2 linked regions of the Homo sapiens genome follow. The protein of the gene in region 1 purifies or fractionates together with the protein of each later gene. This does not show direct contact. Each region holds a gene or a part of one and is shown in the gene's direction. Other genes may lie near its edges. The genes, in order: SPIN2A and PRDM7.

Region 1 (4,062 bases):
TGGATTAAAGACATAAATCTAAGACCTGAAATTGTGAAGCTACTAGAAGAAAACTTTGGGAAAAAGCTTCAGGACATTGGTCTGAGCAACGATTTCTTGAGTAAGACCTCAAAGCACAGGCAAAGGAAAAATGGGCAAGTGAAATCACATCAGCTAAAAAGCTTCTGCACAGCAAAGGAAACAATCATAAAATGAAGAGACAACCTAGGTAACAAGAGAAAATATTTACAAAGTATTCAACTGACGGGATTAATAATAAAAATATGTAAGAAATTCCAACAACTCAATAGTAAAAAATCAAATAATCTGATTTAAAAATGGGCAAAAGAGCTGAGTAGACATTTCTCAAACTAAGACGCACAAATGGACAACAGATATATAAAAAGTATTCTAAATCGCTAATCATCAGGTAATTGTATATCAAAATAGCAATGAGATATCATCTTACCCCAGTTAAAATGGCTATTATCAAAAAGACAGAAAATAAAAACTGCTGGTAAGGAAGTGAAGAAAGAGGTATCCTTGTAAATTGCTCGTGGGGATATAAATTAGCATAGCCATTATGAAAAACAGCGTGGTAGTTCCTCCAAAAACTAAAACTACAAATTCCCTAAGATCCAGCAATCTCACTATTGGGTATATATCCAAAAGAAAGGAAATCAGCATATCAACGAGCTATCTGCACTCACATATTTATTTGCAGCACTGATCACAATAGACAAGATATGGAATCAACTTAACTGTCCATCAATAAATAAATGGATAAAAAATGTGATATATATATATATATAATAAAATATTATTCCACCATAGATTAAGATTAACCTAACACTTATTTAACTTTTCAGATGTTAGCCAACATATTGTTTTTATTGTACACCCATTTGGTTTGTTGTCCTACAACATGTAACTGAAAACATCTTACTTGATATAGCAATCTAATATTGTTGATTATTTTCAGAATTATAGGATACTGTGAAAAACTGTAACTCACAAAAAAACACACAAAAATTAAAAATGACTTCACTTTATGCGAAATAGATAAGGTTTGTTAAGTATTGTAATCACATTCAAAAATAACTCTTTAAGCTTAAAATAAGCCAATACTTCTTCAAAGCAAGGTCTCCAAATCTAAAATATGCCTACATAATGCTTTGGAGAAACACTTAATGTATGTATTCGTGAGTGTGTATGCATATACAGAGAATTATATCTGTGAGTTATGTGATTGGATAGAGGTGTGTATTTGGAATTAAGAATCTATGGATAGGAATTTCTGGAACTGTACACAGAATTCATAGTTTTATACATGTGCATGTGCTTGGAGATATATATATATATACATACATACACATTTGCATATGGTCGTAAAGGATTCATGTCTCCATAAATGTATACACATGGTATTTCTATGTTAATTTGTATGTTTCCAAAGAATGTGAGAAATGTCTGAAAGATGGAAAACAGATGGAGCAAGAGAGCTGAGGGGAGGGGCTAGAGAGCTTGAAGGATCCAGCCAGCAGAGACAGGAAGAGAGAAAAGGCCACCTACAGGTTCCACTGTTGTGAATTGTGGAAAGGGAAGGAGGAGCCCAGGAGGGGCCCCAAGAAAAGAAAGGCAGATCTGCTCTGTGATTAGAATGGAAGACATCACTACTAAGAGGAAACTAACACTGTAGTCTTGTGCAGAAAAAGGGCAGAGACTACAGCCACTGCATCAGGGACTGGTGGCAGCCCAACGTGGCTGAGGGGTGGCCGCCACCAACAGGGAGGTAGACGGCCAGCGAGCGAAGCGCTGGGGACACCGCTGCAGTGCTCTTTGCCTGTCTCGCCGCGCTCCTACACACGCTCCTCATCTATGGATCCTACCCTCCCCGCTCTTGCAAGCAGTCACTCAGCGAGTCGCCTGTTGACCCTCCTTCGCCACAGGCTCACAGCAGAGGCAGCATCGAGGTATCCGATTTCGGCACGTGAGGCCCGCGATCCCCGGCGGTGGACGCCAGGCAGGGCAAGGCCATTAGTGGGCGCCAGAATGGAGAGGGGGATGGGAAGGAATCCAGCAGGAGACATGGGGTGGAGTTGGGCGCCAGGCAAGGGTGGGGTGGGGGAGTGCGGTGGACGACAGGGAAAGGGGGTAGGAATAGGAGCCAGACAAGGATTTGAAGGTGAGCGCCAGGAAGCAAGGGAGGTAGGTAACAGGGAAGTGGTTAGGATAGGCAGTGGGGGTTACAGACAGCACCAGAGGCACTCAGGGCAGGAGGGTAGTGGGTGCTGGTCAAGGCCGCTTTGCAGGGGATTGGGAGTGGATGCTAGTGGCAGTAAAGGGTAAAGGGAGGGCAGTGGGCTCTGAGCTAGGAGGAGGTGGCCCAGCCACTTCTGCAGAGTTCCTAACCCCAGACAGCTCTACTGCACCACCCCAGCCCTTCCCCACAGCCCAAAGGAACTTAAGAGGGAGAGCACTGCGGGCATGCAGCCAGGATTTCCAGCATTGCTTCCAGGCTCCTAGGGGAAACTTAGGCACTAGCGCAGACTACATCCAGACATGGCTATAGGGAAAAGTTTGCCTTGTGGCACACTGGGTGTGTCTCTCTATCCTCTCTCCTCCCCCAGCAGGCATGAAGACCCCCAACGCACAGGAAGCCGAAGGGCAACAAACCAGGGCAGCTGCAGGACGGGCCACTGGGTCTGCAAACATGACAAAGAAAAAAGTCTCCCAAAAGAAGCAGAGAGGCCGACCTTCATCCCAGCCCCGCAGGAACATCGTGGGCTGCAGAATTTCTCATGGATGGAAGGAAGGAGATGAGCCCATCACGCAGTGGAAAGGAACCGTTCTGGATCAGGTGCCTATAAATCCCTCTCTTTATCTGGTGAAATATGATGGAATTGACTGTGTCTATGGACTGGAACTTCACAGAGATGAAAGGGTTTTGTCTCTTAAAATTCTTTCTGACAGGGTGGCATCATCTCACATTAGTGATGCCAACCTTGCAAATACCATAATTGGCAAAGCAGTGGAACACATGTTTGAGGGAGAGCATGGTTCTAAGGATGAATGGAGGGGGATGGTCTTAGCTCAAGCACCTATCATGAAAGCCTGGTTTTATATTACCTATGAGAAAGATCCTGTCTTGTACATGTACCAGCTTCTAGATGATTATAAGGAAGGTGACCTCCGCATCATGCCAGAATCCAGTGAGTCTCCTCCAACAGAGAGGGAGCCAGGAGGAGTTGTAGATGGCCTAATAGGTAAGCATGTGGAATATACCAAAGAAGATGGCTCCAAAAGGATCGGCATGGTCATTCACCAAGTGGAAACCAAACCCTCTGTGTATTTCATCAAGTTTGATGATGATTTCCATATCTATGTCTACGATTTGGTGAAAAAGTCCTAACTGTTAGGGTAAAATTTGGCACATGTGTGGAAACAAATGTATAATTTGTAGACATGCAAAAAATGTTGCCTTTCAGTGTACTGAAAGCTTATGGAATCCCTGATAACTAAACATCTTTGCCAGCATTAACTGTTGTTTTGCTCTAAAAAATACAAATTTGTGAATACATGACATGCTGTCTGTAAGCCCTTTGTCTTGTTGAAAAGTTCGGGTGTGTTTGGTAGATGGGGCATGGAAGGAACGAACAGCTGTCAATTTCGGCTGTGAATAAAGTTCAGCTAGAATCATAATCAGTCATTTAAAAATGGCACTGGATTTAGCTGGTCTGGTCTGGAGGGGGCAGGGGAAGGAACAAGAGATTGGCTGTCTTGGGGAGAGAGGAGGAGGTGACTGCTTAGGAAGAGGTGGAAAAGGGCCAGAAAGGGAGGGGCTCCTTGGGGGAGGGGATGACCTATGAGAAGGAAACATCCAACTCAGAAGGAAGACTAACAGAGGGAGAGTGAGATCTTGGGGCTTAGAGGAAAATAGAATAAACTGAGTAGAGAGGAACACAAAGAAGCTTAGAAGAGGGTCCAGAGTAAGGTGGAGAAGGATCAACCTGACAGGGATCTGGGAGAGGCTAAAGGATACACAAAGGAAGAGGCTATGTGGGTTAGGGTGTTGGAGGGATT
Region 2 (4,580 bases), on another chromosome or scaffold:
CAAGTGGGGCAGCAAGTGGAAGAAAGAGCTCATGGCAGGGAGAGGTAGGCATCACTATTACTCTTTTAAAAGGACAGGAAAGAAAGAATTATCCTAGAGAATTTTCATGATTGAACTCTTAAGTAGAGTAAAACGCCGTCTAAAGTCAGTAAAATTTTACATCAGTGGCTTCCAAAATTAAAGATTCATGTTATATGCCTTTGCCTCTTTGGAACAGTTTTTATATTTTTAAATCTTTGTTCCGATTTTATATTCAAAGTACTTCATGCACAAAGTATATAACAGCATACAGTGCTCAAAGACTTAAAGACAAAAATCAAGTTCTCAAACACCTACCAGCTCTCCCAACAAGGTAGTTTCTTCTGGCATTTCCTTGATATTTCTTAATGATACGCATATGTTGTTATTCATTCATTCATTATCTCAATTAGCTGTCATGTGAGTTCCTACTCTGTGCCAGACGATGTTGCAGGAAGTGTAAATACAGACTGATGAAGACAATCAAAAAAACTGCTCTTGAACAGATAACTTGTGAATTAGGGAACCGTACGAATACACACAGACATATGTGTAATATCAGACGGCGATTAGTGCTTTGAAGAAAATGAATCCAGAAAGAATACCTGGGATCAGTGTGAGACCTGGGATCGGTGTGAGAGCTGAGGTCAGTGTGAGACCTGGGGGTCAGTGTGAGACCTGAGGTCAGTGTGAGACCTGGGGGTCAGTGTGAGGTGACAGTAGAGTGTTGCAGGGGATTGTCAGGGAAGATTTCTCTTAGGAGACAGCATTTGAGAAGTGCAAGTGCCTGTGGGCCAAGGATTCCAGGCACAGGGCGCAGCTAGTGCAATGGTCCTGAGGCCAGAAAGAGTTCAGCTTTGGTTCATTTTTGGAAAATAGGCTGCCATGGGTCATCCCTTCAGAGCTGCTCCAGTTTCCAAGTGAGAGAAAATGGTGGGCAGGATGAAGGTGGGGAGCATGGCGGTAAGCCTGAGTAGGGATATATTTTGAAACAAGACTTCCTATTATATTTAAAATGGGTTCAGACTGAATGAAATAACTCAGACATGAATACTTGATGTGCAGCCTGACAAAGAGCATATTCTCATTTTATGATTTGTGGAATCTGAAACAGAAGCAGTCCATGCACCTAGTTGGCGCAGCAGGACCCACAGTCCTTTAGTCAGTGGGACCTGGACCACTCTGTGTTGGCCAACCTGAATCACACTTCCTGATGGAGAACCGGGCACATAACAGTCCTCAATTAAATATGTCCTTTTGAATGAGGATACTCAAATTCAGATTTGCTAACACATCTCTTTAACCACATTTGTGGATCTCCAGGCTGAGTGCTCCTAATAGATCCTTTTCCCCTCTTAGGAAGTCACTAAGGACAATCTCACCTAAGTCATCAAGAGTGTTATTTCTCAATAGAATAAAATAGCTGAAAACCTCGCGTCGCAAAAGTGCCCAGGGCCCAGGGAGGGAGCATGTGGCAGAGGTGATCAGGGAAGGCTTTACAGGACTTGGAAGATACCTGTGGCATGGGGGAAAGGTCACTGCAGTTCCATCTATGTAAGGAATGATGCTGCCCCTGATGCTGCTTGAGGTTACCCAGAGTCTGGCTGATACGTAGAAAAGGCCCAAGATGTGGGATTTCTGGATTTTTTAAGATGTAGTGAATAAAAGTGGAATGGAAAAATGGACTGTAAAGGTCCATCCAGCACTTGGTGGGAGAGAGCTTGCATTGTTAACATATGAAGAATGACTGGTTCTTCATTTGATCTTCATACCTTCATATGTAGTAAGGCCTGAACAAAACATCTACCCTGACCAAAAACTTCCTCTTTCAGAACCAAAGCCAGAGATCCATCCATGTCCCTCATGCTGTCTGGCCTTTTCAAGTCAAAAATTTCTCAGTCAACATGTGGAACGCAATCACTCCTCTCAGAACTTCCCAGGACCATCTGCAAGAAAACTTCTCCAACCAGAGAATCCCTGCCCAGGGGATCAGAATCAGGAGCGGCAATATTCTGATCCACGCTGCTGTAATGACAAAACCAAAGGTCAAGAGATCAAAGAAAGGTCCAAACTCTTGAATAAAAGGACATGGCAGAGGGAGATTTCAAGGGCCTTTTCTAGCCCACCCAAAGGACAAATGGGGAGCTCTAGAGTGGGAGAAAGAATGATGGAAGAAGAGTCCAGAACAGGCCAGAAAGTGAATCCAGGGAACACAGGCAAATTATTTGTGGGGGTAGGAATCTCAAGAATTGCGAAAGTCAAATATGGAGAGTGTGGGCAAGGTTTCAGTGATAAGTCAGATGTTATTACACACCAAAGGACACACACAGGGGGGAAGCCCTACGTCTGCAGAGAGTGTGGGAGGGCTTTAGCCGGAAGTCAGACCTCCTCAGTCACCAGAGGACACACACAGGGGAGAAGCCTTATGTCTGCAGAGAGTGTGAGCGGGGCTTTAGCCGGAAGTCAGTCCTCCTCATTCACCAGAGGACACACAGGGGAGACGCCCCAGTCTGCAGGAAGGATGAGTAAGTCATTAGTAATAAAACCTTATCTCAATAGCCACAAGAAGACAAACGTGATCACCACACACTTGCACACCCCAGCTCTGAGGTGGCTTCAGCGAAAGTCTGCTAACCCCTTACATTCCCCGAGAGTGTAAAGAGATCGGAAATAACTAATTAAACAAATCCGCCACTTTCATGACTAGAGTTGAGGAAGAACAGGGGATAGTTCTGTAAGTGTTCGGGGGACGTCAACATGTGTGGTTGTTTCCCGCACTGATCCCCTCCATTTTTTGTGTTTTGCCTCCTGTTCTAATTAATTTTGTCTCCATACATATCTGAACCCCAAGTGTGTACCTCATTCTTCCCTTATCACTGAAGGAAGGAAGAGTCCAGAAGGGCCACAGAGAACTCAAACGTTCAGTTCAAGTCTCCACAGGAATTCAACCCCAGAAAGACATAAACTTGGAGTCCATCTGGTTTAATTATTGGAGAATCGATTCCCAAGTCCAGGAAGAGAAATGTAGGGTTTTACAGAGTCGCAGCAGGAAAGAGAGCTCCCTGGTCTCCTGGGAAGTGTGACCTCTTCTAATGGACCCCTCTCCTCTGCTGCCATACTCCCCCTTGGCTCCCCCTGTCTCCTCTCCTGATTTCCTCCAATCTCTGTAGCCCCAGAAGTGAACGCCAGACAGGAACACGCATGTGTGTATATATGTGTTCACGTGTGCTATGTGTGTTAAGCCTGCATGCATGGGTGTGGGGGTATGTGCCCTCTGTGTACGTATCTGTGTGAGTGTGGGGGTTTCAAGGGTGTATTAGGAATAACGCTCAAAATCCTAAGGAAATTGAATACTCTGAGAGAAGAGAGACAGACCCTCTCATACTGTTTTATATTGTTTTATACTCAGAAAAGGAAAAAGAAGCAAAACTAAAGGCAGGTAGCCTGGCGCCTAGGAACCAGACCTGAAACCAAGGAACCAGACCCGAAACCAGGCCTGGGCCGGCCTGACCTAAGCCTGGTAGTTAAAATTCGACCCCTGACCTAGCAACTGATGTTATCTATAGATTATAGAAAGACATTGTGAAACTTCCCGGTCTGTTCTGTTCCACTCTGACCATCGGTGCATGCAGCCCCTGTCACCTACCCCCTGCTTGCTCAATCGATCACGACCCTCTCACGTGGACCCCCTTAGAGTTGTGAGCCCTTAAAAGGGACAGGAATTGCTCACTCGGGGAGCTCGGCTCTTGAGACAGCAGTCTTGCTGATGCTCCTGGCCGAATAAACCGCTTCCTTCTTTAACTCTGTGTCTGAGGGGTTTCGTCTGCGGCTCATCCTGCTACAAGAGCACTGGTTCAATTAGCTTTTAATATTTAACCTAACTACTCAGTCAGTGCTGAGACAGTTGTAATGGAGGCTGGTGTTAGTGAGACCTGGCCTGCCACAGCTACACTTAGCTCTCTTTCCTTTTCTTTTTTTTTTTCTGAGACAGAGTCTCACTCTGTTCCCCAGGCTGGAGTGCAGTGGTGTGATCTCAGGTCACTGCAACCTCCGTCTCCTACATTCAGTGATTCTCCTGCCTCAGCCTCCAGAGTAGCTGGGATTACAGTCACCCACCACCACACCCTGCTAATTTTTTGTATTTTCAGTAGAGATGGCATTTCACCATGTTGGCCAGGCTGGTCTCGAATGCCTGACCTCGTGATTCACCCATCTCAGCCTCCCAAAGTGCTGGGATTACAGGTGTGAGCCACCGCACCAGGCTCACTTAGCTCTTTTCTTCTACTAAAACATAATCTGAGAAGTAAAAATAAAATCATAAGCCCTCTGTATTATTCCATTTTCACATTGCTATAGAGAAACACCTGAGGCTGGGTAATTTATAAAGAAAAGAGGTTTAGTTGGCTCATGGCTCTGCTGTATAGGAAGCATAGTGGCTTCTGCTTGTAGGAAGGCCTTGGCAAGCTTCCAGTTATGGCAGAAGGCAAAGGGGAGGGAGACATCTCACATGGTGGGAGCAGGAGCAAGAGAGAGTGAGGAGGGCGATGTCTCACACTTCTAAA

The links.
Region 2: the proteins of SPIN2A (region 1) and PRDM7 purify together in Homo sapiens (affinity purification with mass spectrometry; one large-scale study listed by BioGRID and IntAct). This does not show direct contact.

What each region holds. Positions count from the first base shown.
Region 1 is NC_000023.11:57,135,150-57,139,211, reverse strand, and holds SPIN2A (spindlin-2A), read left to right. Parts: upstream 1-1,814; 5' UTR 1,815-1,952; exon of another isoform or gene 1,953-2,007; intron 2,008-2,070; exon of another isoform or gene 2,071-2,164; intron 2,165-2,335; exon of another isoform or gene 2,336-2,609; 5' UTR 2,610-2,614; coding exon 2,615-3,391; 3' UTR 3,392-3,562; downstream 3,563-4,062. UniProt on the Homo sapiens protein: May be involved in the regulation of cell cycle progression. Exhibits H3K4me3-binding activity.
Region 2 is NC_000016.10:90,055,805-90,060,384, reverse strand, and holds the end of PRDM7 (histone-lysine N-methyltransferase PRDM7), read left to right. Parts: coding exon 1-44; intron 45-1,850; coding exon 1,851-2,096; 3' UTR 2,097-3,819; downstream 3,820-4,580. UniProt on the Homo sapiens protein: Histone methyltransferase that selectively methylates 'Lys-4' of dimethylated histone H3 (H3K4me2) to produce trimethylated 'Lys-4' histone H3 (H3K4me3). May play a role in epigenetic regulation of gene expression by defining an active chromatin state.